2 linked regions of the Homo sapiens genome follow. The protein of the gene in region 1 purifies or fractionates together with the protein of each later gene. This does not show direct contact. Each region holds a gene or a part of one and is shown in the gene's direction. Other genes may lie near its edges.

Region 1 (5,567 bases):
GACCTCGTGATCCTCCCGCCTCGGCCTCCCAAAGTGCTGGGATTACAGGCGTGAGCCACCGCGCCCGGCAACTGCAATTTTTTTTTTTTTTGAGACAAGTTTTCATTCTGTCATCCCAGCTGGAATGCAGTGGCCCAATCATAGCTCACTGCAGCCGCCATCTCCTGGACTCAAGTAATCCTCCTGCCTCAGCCCAGAGTAACTGCGACTACAGGTACGCACCACCATGCCTGGCCATTTTAAAATTTTTCTTTGCCCAGGCTGGTCTTGAACTCCTGGCCTCAAGTGATCCTCCTACCTCAGCCTCCCAAAGTACTGGGATTACAGGCATGAGCCACTGTGCCCAGCCTGCTTTGTAATCTTTTTTTTTTTTTTTTTCTTGAGACGGAGTCTCGCTCTGTCGCCCAGGCTGGAGTGCAGTGGCGCAATCTCGGCTCACTGCAACTTCTGCCTCCCGGGTTCACGCTCTTCTCCTGCCTCAGTTTCTTGAGTAGCTGGGACTACAGGCGCCCGCCACCAAGCCCGGCTAATTTTTTGTATTTTTAGTAGAGACTGGGTTTCACCGTGTTAGCCAGGATGGGCTTTGTAATCTTATGTATTTTGTTGGGGGGAGGGGGAAGCTATGCATAACATAAAATTGACCGTTTTAACCATTTTACAATTCTGTAACACTGTATACAATTCAGTGACATTAAGCACATTCACACTGTTGTGATGCCATCAGCACCATCCATCTTCCCAAACTGAAACCCTGTATCCATTAAAAAGTAACTCCCCATTCTTTGTCCCCCAGACCCTGGCAAGCACCATTTAACTTTCTGCCCATGATTTTGACTACTCTGGGTACCTCATATGAGGGGAATCATACAATGTGTGTCCTTCCCTATTTGGCTTATTTCACTTAGCATCATGCCTTCAAGGTTCATTGATGTTGTAGCATGTGTCAGAATTTCACTTCATTTTAAGGCTAGATAATATTCCATTGTATGTTTATAGCACTTTATGTCTATCTTTTCGTCAACCGATGGACATTTGGGTTGCTTCCCTCTTCTGACCATTGTGAATAATGCTATGAATATTGGTATACAAATGTCTCTGCTTTCTCAGTTCTTTTGGGTATATACCCAGAAGTAGAATTGCTAAATCATACGGTAATTGTTTTTTTTAGGAATACGTATTTTTATGCAGGAAAAATATGATTCTGAAATAAGCCTACTAGACTCTTGTTCTACATACTTTATTTTGCATGCCTGTCTCCGCCACTAGATGGGAGACTTGTTGACAAGGACTAACCGGTTCCAGGTGCCCCTCAGGAACCCTCCCAGAGGTGTAGTAAATGCATCCAGCGCCTAGCGGACGCCCTGCGTGCCCGGCAAGGGGTGAGGTGCAGGCGATACAAAGGTGCAGAATGTACCCCAAAAGAACAGCCTAGAGGGGAATTAGGCCGGAGGATGACCGATTAAAATCACCCCAACTCCTGATTGTGCCGCTTCCTAGGTGCATGACCCAGGGCAACTTCCTTTGGCCCCGGCTTCCCCGTCTATAAAATGATTTACATTATCTGCTCAAATTTCCGACAAGAACACACCTCGCCTTTATCACAGAGCGTGGCACATATTAGGAATTCAATAATTTTGTCCCTATCACCTGCGATAGCAAGAGACAGACTTGTCCGCAACCTGCCGGGAGGCAGGTTCTGGGGAGGTTGCTGGGGCGCGGTCGGGCGGCCCTGTCCGGCCCTGGACCACCTCCAGGCTGGTACGGGAGTGCACAGGGAGGGACTGGAGGCTGCACTCCGAGCCCCAGTATGGGCGCTTGGTCGTCTCCGCCCCTGGGCACCGTCCCGCCTCCCTCTGGCTGCAGCGGTCTGCATTCATTCCCCTCAGTGGAGCGGGGGATCCTGGCGGGGCAGCGGCGGTTGGCCCTCCTCTCCGGCGGGCGGCGCTAGCGCGAGCCTGGCCCCGGGCAGCGCTAGGGCCGGGCTCCTCTCGGCGGCGGCGCACCGTCGTCCTGTCGTCCGCGGGGCGGGGACGCGGCGGCGGCGGCGGCGGTGGCGGCTGTGTGTCGCCGGAGCCGAAGCGCGCAGGCCCGTCCCGGTGGCCGGGGAGCGGGCGGGTGGGGGCGCCATGTGGTTCATGTACCTGCTGAGCTGGCTGTCGCTCTTCATCCAGGTGGCCTTCATCACGCTGGCTGTCGGTGAGACTGCACGACCCCGGCCCGCGCGGGCTCCCGCCCCGGCATCGGTGCTCGTTGGGGGTCGCATCGCGGGGGTTTCGGAGCCACTCGGGGGACCACTGCCCGGCGCTCCCGGCCTTCGCCGCCCCAACCCCTTCCCGCCTGATCCTGCCCCTCCTGTCGAGCCTGGCAGCCCGGCCTGACCGTGGCTCCTTCCAGGTGTCACAGAGTCCGCTCCGGCACTGCCCGAGAAAGGGTGACTCGAGTGCCGCCCCCGCGTCTGCGGACCGCTAACCGCTGCGGCTCCCACTCTTCGCGGGCCTGCCGCGCGGAACTTTTCCCCAACGCCTACCGCCGCCTTTGCGCCTCTGGCCCTTCATGCTCCCTGCTCTCTCCACCTTTGACACTTCTCCTCTGGCTGGTTCCCATTCGGCCTCAGTTGAGATGTCATCTTTTCCGGGAAGTCCACAGGGGTTGATGGTCCAGCAGTGCCCTGTCCTTTCCCTAAAGTAGCATTTCTCACACTAAACTCGTCTGTCTCTCCCTACTGTTCCCCTTCCCTTTCCCAAGCTGGGTCAGGGAAGGACCCTTGTCTGTCTTTTTCAGCTGTATTCTCAGCCCAGGGACCTGGCTCATGCCAAGTGCCCAGCAGGTGTTTATTGAATACGTGAAATTCCGTTTTCTGAGCCAGAGGTTATCATTGTACTGTGGCATCAAATGCAGACTTTCGTTGATTTTTATGAGATTTGTCCTTAGTTGCCCTAAGAAAGTTTTACTTCTCCAGACTTGGAAGGGCAACACATGGGATGTTTGGTTTGTTCTTGACCTTCTGGGGTCCATGAAGGGTGGATGGGGACTGGGCTGCAGAGAGAGGGGTGACCAGGATGGTGGGAGTGACCCTGGCTGATAGTCTCCCTGCCTCCCACCCTGCAGCGGCTGGACTCTATTACCTGGCAGAACTGATAGAAGAATACACAGTGGCCACCAGCAGGATCATAAAATACATGATCTGGGTAAGTGGCATCTTTCTCCAGGAGTCCTCCTCACTCTTTTGCCCTGCCTCAAAAGCAGGAAGTGGGGAGAGTTTGGCATGGATGATGAGGCCTGTGTCTCTGCTGTTTCCTGAGCATACACTCTTACCTCCTTGCCCTGAACGCTGTCTTTTGGGTCTGCACTCCTGGGCCCAGATCTTCCCTGGCCGCCTTCCCCAAGTGGCATTGTTTCACTGCAGGCCTTGTGCTCTAGTCCTTAAGGTGACAGCGAAGTGTACTTCTCTGTTGACAAGACCGTAGATTTGACTTTGCTTAGCTCTCTCCCGCTGTCTTTAGCCCTTTGCTCTGCTCACAGCATTTAAAACTTAGAGGAGCCATAAGACAGTTTTGCATATATGTTCATTGCCATCTTTCTAATCGGATCAAGTGATTTGTCCTAAGATCGGCACAGCTTCGCTGCCCTCGCCCTTCCCTGGTCTCATGGGAGGCTTCTCTTACTGAAGACACAGTCCTTGCCACTGATATCAAAGCCATAGGGGTGACTGCTGGTGGACAGACTTCCTTCAGCTGCAGGAAAGGCTGGGGGTAGGGGTGCCATTGGAGAGAAAGCGTCCACAGCCCCTCAAGTCGCCTGGTGTCAGCAGCCATGTGCACTCTGGGCATGGCTGAGGTTGGGAGTTCACAGTGGAGGCAAGACTATAGCCCTCAGCTCTGGTCCAGAGGCCCAGCTTGTGGGTGTTGGCACAGTAATTAGCCCTTCATTCAGCCAACTGTCATTTGCTAAGCACTGACAACTGTAGGTACTTATCAGTAGTGTTTTTCAAACTGTAGGCATGATTCATTATTTGGCTGTATAGTAGGTCACAATCAGCATTTTTTAAAAAAAGGAACATAAATAGAATTGAAATTTGAGCTTTGAATCATATATATGTATATATGTGTTGGGGTCACAGTGTAAAATGTTTTTCTTTTTCTTTTTTTTTTTTTGAGATGGAGTTTCGCTCTTATTACCCAGGCTGGAGTGCAGTGGCACAATCTCAGCTCACCGCAACCTCTGCCTCCTGGGTTCAAGCGATTCTCCTGCCTCAGCCTCCCGAGTAGCTGGGATTATAGGCATGTGCCACCATGCCTGGCTAATTTTGTATTTTTAGTAGAGATGGGGTTTCTCCATGTTGGTCAGGCTGGTCACAAACTCCCAACCTCAGGTGATCTGCCTGCCTTGGCCTCCCAAAGTGTTGGGATTCCAGGCGTGAGCCACCTCGCCTGGCAGATGTTTTTCTTACTGTGGGTTGCTGTCAAAAAGTTTGAGAAATGGGCTGGGTGCGGTGGCTCACACCTGTAATCCCAGCACTTTGGGAGGCCATCAGAAGTTTGAGACCAGCCTGGCCAACATGGCAAAACCCTGTCTCTACTAAAGACACAAAAATTAGCTGGGCGTGGTTGTGCATGCCTGTAGTCCCAACTACTCAGGAGGCTGAGGCAAGAGAATTGCTTGAATCCAGGAGATCGCGCCACTGCACTCCAGCCTGGATGACAGAGTGAGACTCCGTCTCAAAAAAAAAAAAAAAAATGTTGCCTTTTGGGAGCAGAGAACCTAGCTGGGGAGGCCAGACCTGTGAAATGAGGAGATTGAAGCATGAACCTAGTGCTGCCCAGAGCGGGCTGGGGGTTGGTGAGTCCAGGAACGTTGCCTGGAAGAAGCGCCCTGCACTGTCTGCCTCTGGTTGTTTCAGTTCTCCACCGCTGTACTGATTGGCCTCTACGTCTTTGAGCGCTTCCCCACCAGCATGATTGGAGTGGGCCTATTCACCAACCTCGTCTACTTTGGCCTCCTCCAGACCTTCCCCTTCATCATGCTGACCTCGCCTAACTTCATCCTGTCGTGTGGTGAGAGGGGACAGAGTTGGGGAGGCAGCTGATGTGGTTGGGTGTGCCCATCTCCATCCTGGGCACTAAAGGGGATACAGAAAAAGGAAGCCAGCTGTTGAAGTCCTCCAGGAAGCCAGGCTAGTTGGGAAGATGCGGTTCTTACTGCTGAGGACTCTAGAGCCCACCTTGGCTCTAGTGAATAGAATTTGTTGGGGCTGGGGACTCAGACAGGGAGGGCTTTCCCAGAGAGGTAAGTTTGAAGGAGAGTTTGGGAAAGAAGAGGTTGTGGATTGGCTGAGGCAGGGCCCCCAACTGAGCAGTTCCAGCCTCAAAAAAACCACTTGGCCAGAAAAAGCCCAAAGCCCTTCCGGTAGGCAGGCAGCTGTCCGTCCAGTCCTCTGACCCAAAGTCATTGTTAGGACTGGAGCCTCATGGGGCTGTGAGCACCTTGCAGACTCTGGCCTGGTGTGAATGCCTCCTGGGGGCTGCAGCTTCTCATCTCATTCTCACTGGCTGCCGCTGCCTCGGGCT
Region 2 (5,111 bases), on another chromosome or scaffold:
GAAGCAAAATGCTTCTTAAGTTTTACATATATATATATATATATACATATATATATACACATATAATTTATATCGATGGATAATACATTAAGAATCTATGCTTCCTTTGAATGCCATTAATATTTATGTTAAAGTAACCAATGAAAGGAAATTACTTTGTTATAATAAGATAGGAAGACTTGTTAATGGAGTACACAGTTTTGTCAGGGAAAGAACACATCTTATTGAACTATGATGACTATGCATTGACTATATTATTATAAGAGATACCTTCAAACTTTATTTAAAGAACTTTAGGTATAATATGTTGAGAAAATAAAATAGAAATTTCATTTACTTGTAATCATGCTTAAAATGGGAGGCAGGTAGGTGAAGATATAATTTTTAGTAAAAACTCCAATTTATGTTTTAAGTAATTCAGTGTATTACTAAAATACTATATATATAAACTTAAAATACATGGGTTATCAATTTAAAAGACAAAGTAAGTAAAAATACTTTTAGTAGGCATTCGTGGATTGTGAACATCCAAGTTATATTGGTTTGTATAGAATGGCATTAAGTAAAAATTACAGCTGTATAACAGTAGTTTTCTAAATTGAGAGAGTCCACATTGTAATTAGAGATCACTGTGACCAAAATGCTTCTCCTTGATTTATAATGATGTACTGTATTTTGTACTGCTTATATGAAATTTCAGCAAGATTGACGATATTATAAAGATGCTTATAAAGTGTAAGTGGAGACGCTAAATTGTGAGTACAAAGTTTCTTTTTCACAACAGTGATAAGAAAATATCTTTAAAAAATATAAGACAATATAAACATGTCATCATTAGTTTAGCTACTATTAAAATGTAACATCTAGAAAGTACTGATCTCCACCTTCAGACTTCTGTATAAGTATATTTTTTCACTGATCTGTTCATTAGAGTTCTTCCAGCCAAGACTCTGGGCTCTTAAAACATGTATCTGAAAACTAAAAACAAGTTAATTTTTTTAAAAGCTTCTCTATTTCTAGTGATTCAATAGGTAGAAAAATAGCTTCTAGAATTAACTGCAATGCTTTCTAAGGAAATTTTATAAATCCTCAAGGTCGGTTTACACATATTTTTCCAGATTCAGAGCACTAACTATCTTGTAAGATGTAAGAAAAGGTCCATTTGGAAGTATGAGTAATAAATGTCTGGGATAATTCTGGTTTATTTCGTATTATCCTTGTTAGAATAAGTTATATGGTCAACCTGTTCAGAACACTTTTTCTAGTGTTAGTGTGTACTTTTGGATTTTTGGTTCTTGTAGGGTATAGAAATATTTTCCTTTGTCTTGTATTCTGTTGTTTTGAATGAATAAAACACAATGTTTCACGATCACTACTTTCATTTGCCATGGAGAAATAGCAGGGAAAAATTTCTACAGAATAAAATTAACTGATGAATTACATGCAGAAAAAATTCAAATCAATGATACATTGTAATTTTTATCTCAATGCAATGTTCTTTGTATTTTATTTTATTATTATTTTTTTGAGACGGAGTTTCACTTTTGTTGCCCGGGCTGGAGTGCAATGGCACAATCTCGGCTCACCACAACCTCTGCCTCCCGGATTCAAGTGATTCTCCTGCCTCAGCCTCCTGAATAGCTGGGATTACAGGCATATGCCAACATGCCTGGCTAATTTTGTATTTTTAGTGGAGACGGGGTTTCTCCACGTTGGTCAGACTTGTCTTGAACTCTGGACCTCAGGTGATCCACCTGCCTCAGCCTCCTAAATTGCTGGGATTACAGGCATGAGCGACCACTCCTGGCCTTGTTCTTTGTATTTTATAAGTGCATGTAGTGCAAAGGGTCAAAGGGCTTTACAGGTTTTTTGTTTGTTTGTTTTTGTTTTTCCCGAAACATAGTAGTCCCTTGCCCTTCCTCATTTTTGTTACCTTGAGACAACAAATTTTACTACTTCTAACTCATTATTTTATTTATGTTCACTTTTCTGAATAGCATGCTTATGACACTAATACTTTTTTTTTCAATTTTAGACATTCATTATTCATTTAGATGTCTTTCTCTCCCCAAACTCACCACATAAAATACTCTTCTCATGTCTCTTTCAGAAATATTTGTATTAAAATATGATTATATCAATATTTGGCATTTATTTCTTATGACCTTGCCAGTACTCTTAGTTAAACTACATGGTAAAAATGATTTTGCTTTCCCTCCTACATAACTTTTTTTCCACCTAGAGCTAATAATTGTCATTCTGGGGACTGACTTTTTCTGTATTTACCATAAATTGACCTGAAACTCCCCTGTGATGCAGCAGGAATTCTACCAACGTCAACTTCCTTAGAAAGACTCCATTAGAAGCTTGACTTGGGGCTAGAAGGAGAGGCACACAACTGCCATCCTGGTGTCTCCCTTCATCCAGAAAAAGGGGGAGGAATACATGAAACCTAGAATCCACTCTAAAACATTTTCCAGAACAAAAGGACATGTGTTTCCGTGTTGTAAATGTTTAACGAGTGCCCATAACAAGGAATAATAAGTCTATTATGTTTGCTTTTGTGTCTGTAAAAGTTGGGGGTATTGGTTGTAAGCACGAAAACAGATACTGACTGTTGAAGAAAAAAAAAAATACGAGGTCAGGAGTTTGAGACCAACTTGGCCAATATGGTGAAACCCTGTCTTAGTAAAAATAGAAAAATTAGCCAGGCCTGGTGGCACGCACCTGTAGTCCCAGCTACTTGGGAGGCTGAGGCAGAAGAATCGCTTGAACCCGGGAGGCAGAGGTTGCAGTGAGCCAAGATCGCACCACTGCACTCCACCCTGGGCAACAGAGCGAGACTCCGTCTCAAAAAAAAAAAAAAAAAAAAAAAAAAAAAGTTAAGTATTTGAACATAGGGGTGGCTCATAGAATTCCCAGGACACCCGATGGAGTAGGCTTGCAAAACACAACATGTGGCAACTCCAGTGGGAAACGAGGCAGGAAACACTCGTTTCCTGCAGAAAGCAACAATTTGGGCTTCGATACCCTCCCTAGAACACAGGGCAGTGAATCTGAGCAGCATCAGTACCCCACGTTCGGATGAGTCCTGAGCCCCTATTTTTATTCACTGACTTATTCCAAAATCAGTGTCTCTTAAATATATCTGGAAGGCAGCAGCTTGTATCTCCCCCTTCAGCTTCCATAGTGGCAGTCAGGGTACAACTTACTTTCCAAACAGAACACACTGCGACATTCCCTCCAGGCTCGTTGAAGAACTTCAACTGACAAATGTCCCTCCTCGACCAGATGATAGTTTTCTTAAAGGCAGGGTTTAATATACCCTTTTATAAATGTTTCAAGGCCCTGTGTAATACCTGAGTTTATTCCAGATGTAACTAAATATATCCAAGATTGTTTTAAAATAAATTGCTGAAAAAACAAATAAATACAGTTAGTATCTATATCAATATTCTCAGTTGGCAGTTTTGCAATAATGGCCGATAGTTCATTTTTAGTAACACTATTGACATTGCATTTGGATATTAGGGTTTACTAATCATCCGCATGTATACATTGCATATTTTTCTAGACTTTAACTTTATTCAAATCTATTGATTTTTAAACCTGCAACTTATGTCTAGACACAGGTATACCTTTACAAGAACTACCATTTTTTTTGGTAACATACTACCTCCAAAATTTCAAGTAAGAAGTTGATTTTTGTCCATTTTTAAATGGAAAACTTGTAATCAAAATGCCACAAAATTATACTGTGTATCATTTGACCTATAGAAACCAATATTATTACAGGAAGAAAGCAGAGCCAATCTTCTACCTGTGGTCAAATAAGTGGAGGCCCTTTCTAGACTAAGTTCTCATGAGTTTAAAATACCAAGCATAAGTTCTCCAAATTCCTGAAAAGGAAGCCTTGTGTTGTATTGCCCAGCCATATTTGTAAGACATAAAAATAAAACTTGAGAAGAAGCTATGATAACTTACTTTCTTCATTCTTCAAAATTTACATAATCTCAACTGATTTTATGTTTTTATGAAAATGCATTCTTAAGATATATCCTTATTCAATCATGTATTCATTACATCCTTTATGCCAGGTATCCAAAAGTACTTACAGTGACTAAGACCATTATTCTTTGATCAGCTGCCTGAGTAAGACTTTGAGCTCTCCAATATACTCTCAGTGATACTAAGTTTTCTGAGTAACAGCTTTGGATGTGGCTTCAGTTGAGCTGATTTATCCCACACTTTATTTTTATCGTATAATGGTCCTCAGAAGCAAATTTTGATTTTAGCTCACATAAAAAATGTACAAAGAAATGTAATGGCTCAGTAGCTTCTAGAGATAGAGATTACTCTTCTAACCTTTCTGTAATTTTGTATGTCTATTTTATAATTCTTTCAATGTCTAATGAATAGCTATCTTTTTTTGAGACGGAGTCTCGCTCTGTCGCCCAGGCTGGAGTGCAGTGGTGCGACCTCGGCTCACCGCAAGCTGCGTCTTCCAGGTTCACGCCATTCTCCTGCCTCAGCCTCCCGAGTAGCTGGGACTTCAGGCGCCCACCACCATGCCCAGCTAATTTTTTTGTATTTTTAGTAGAGACGGGGTTTCACCGTGTTAGCCAGGGTGGTCTCGATCTCCTGACCTCGTGATCCGCCCGCCTCGGCCTCCCAACGTGCTGGGATTACAGGAGTGAGCCACCGCGCCCGGCCTCCTTAGTTTCTTAAGGTGGAAGCCTAGATTATTGATTTTATATGTTGTTTTCTTTTCCAATAGTGGCACTTAATGCTATAAATTTCACTTTGTTCCACAAGTTTTGGTAAGCTCTATTTTTATTTTCATTTAGTCCAAAATATTTTAAAATTTCTTTTGATATTTCTTCTTTGAGCCATGAATTATTTACAATGTGTTGTTTAATCTCTATATATTTTGGGATTTTTCTACTTTATATCTCTTACAGATTTCTAACTTAATTTCATCATGTTTTAAAAACATTCTTTGTATAATTTCTATTCTTTTAAATTTTTCAGGTGTATTTTATGGCCCAGAATATGGTCTATCTTGTAGAATGTTTCATGTGATCTTAAGAAGAATGTTCATTCTGCTGTTG

Evidence for each region.
Region 2: the proteins of TEX261 (region 1) and CD226 purify together in Homo sapiens (co-immunoprecipitation; one large-scale study listed by IntAct). This does not show direct contact.

Annotation. Positions count from the first base shown.
Region 1 is NC_000002.12:70,991,317-70,996,883, reverse strand, and holds the start of TEX261 (protein TEX261), read left to right. Parts: upstream 1-2,010; 5' UTR 2,011-2,126; coding exon 2,127-2,196; intron 2,197-3,108; coding exon 3,109-3,188; intron 3,189-4,900; coding exon 4,901-5,054; intron 5,055-5,567.
Region 2 is NC_000018.10:69,856,489-69,861,599, reverse strand, and holds part of CD226 (CD226 antigen isoform a precursor), read left to right. Parts: 3' UTR 1-5,111.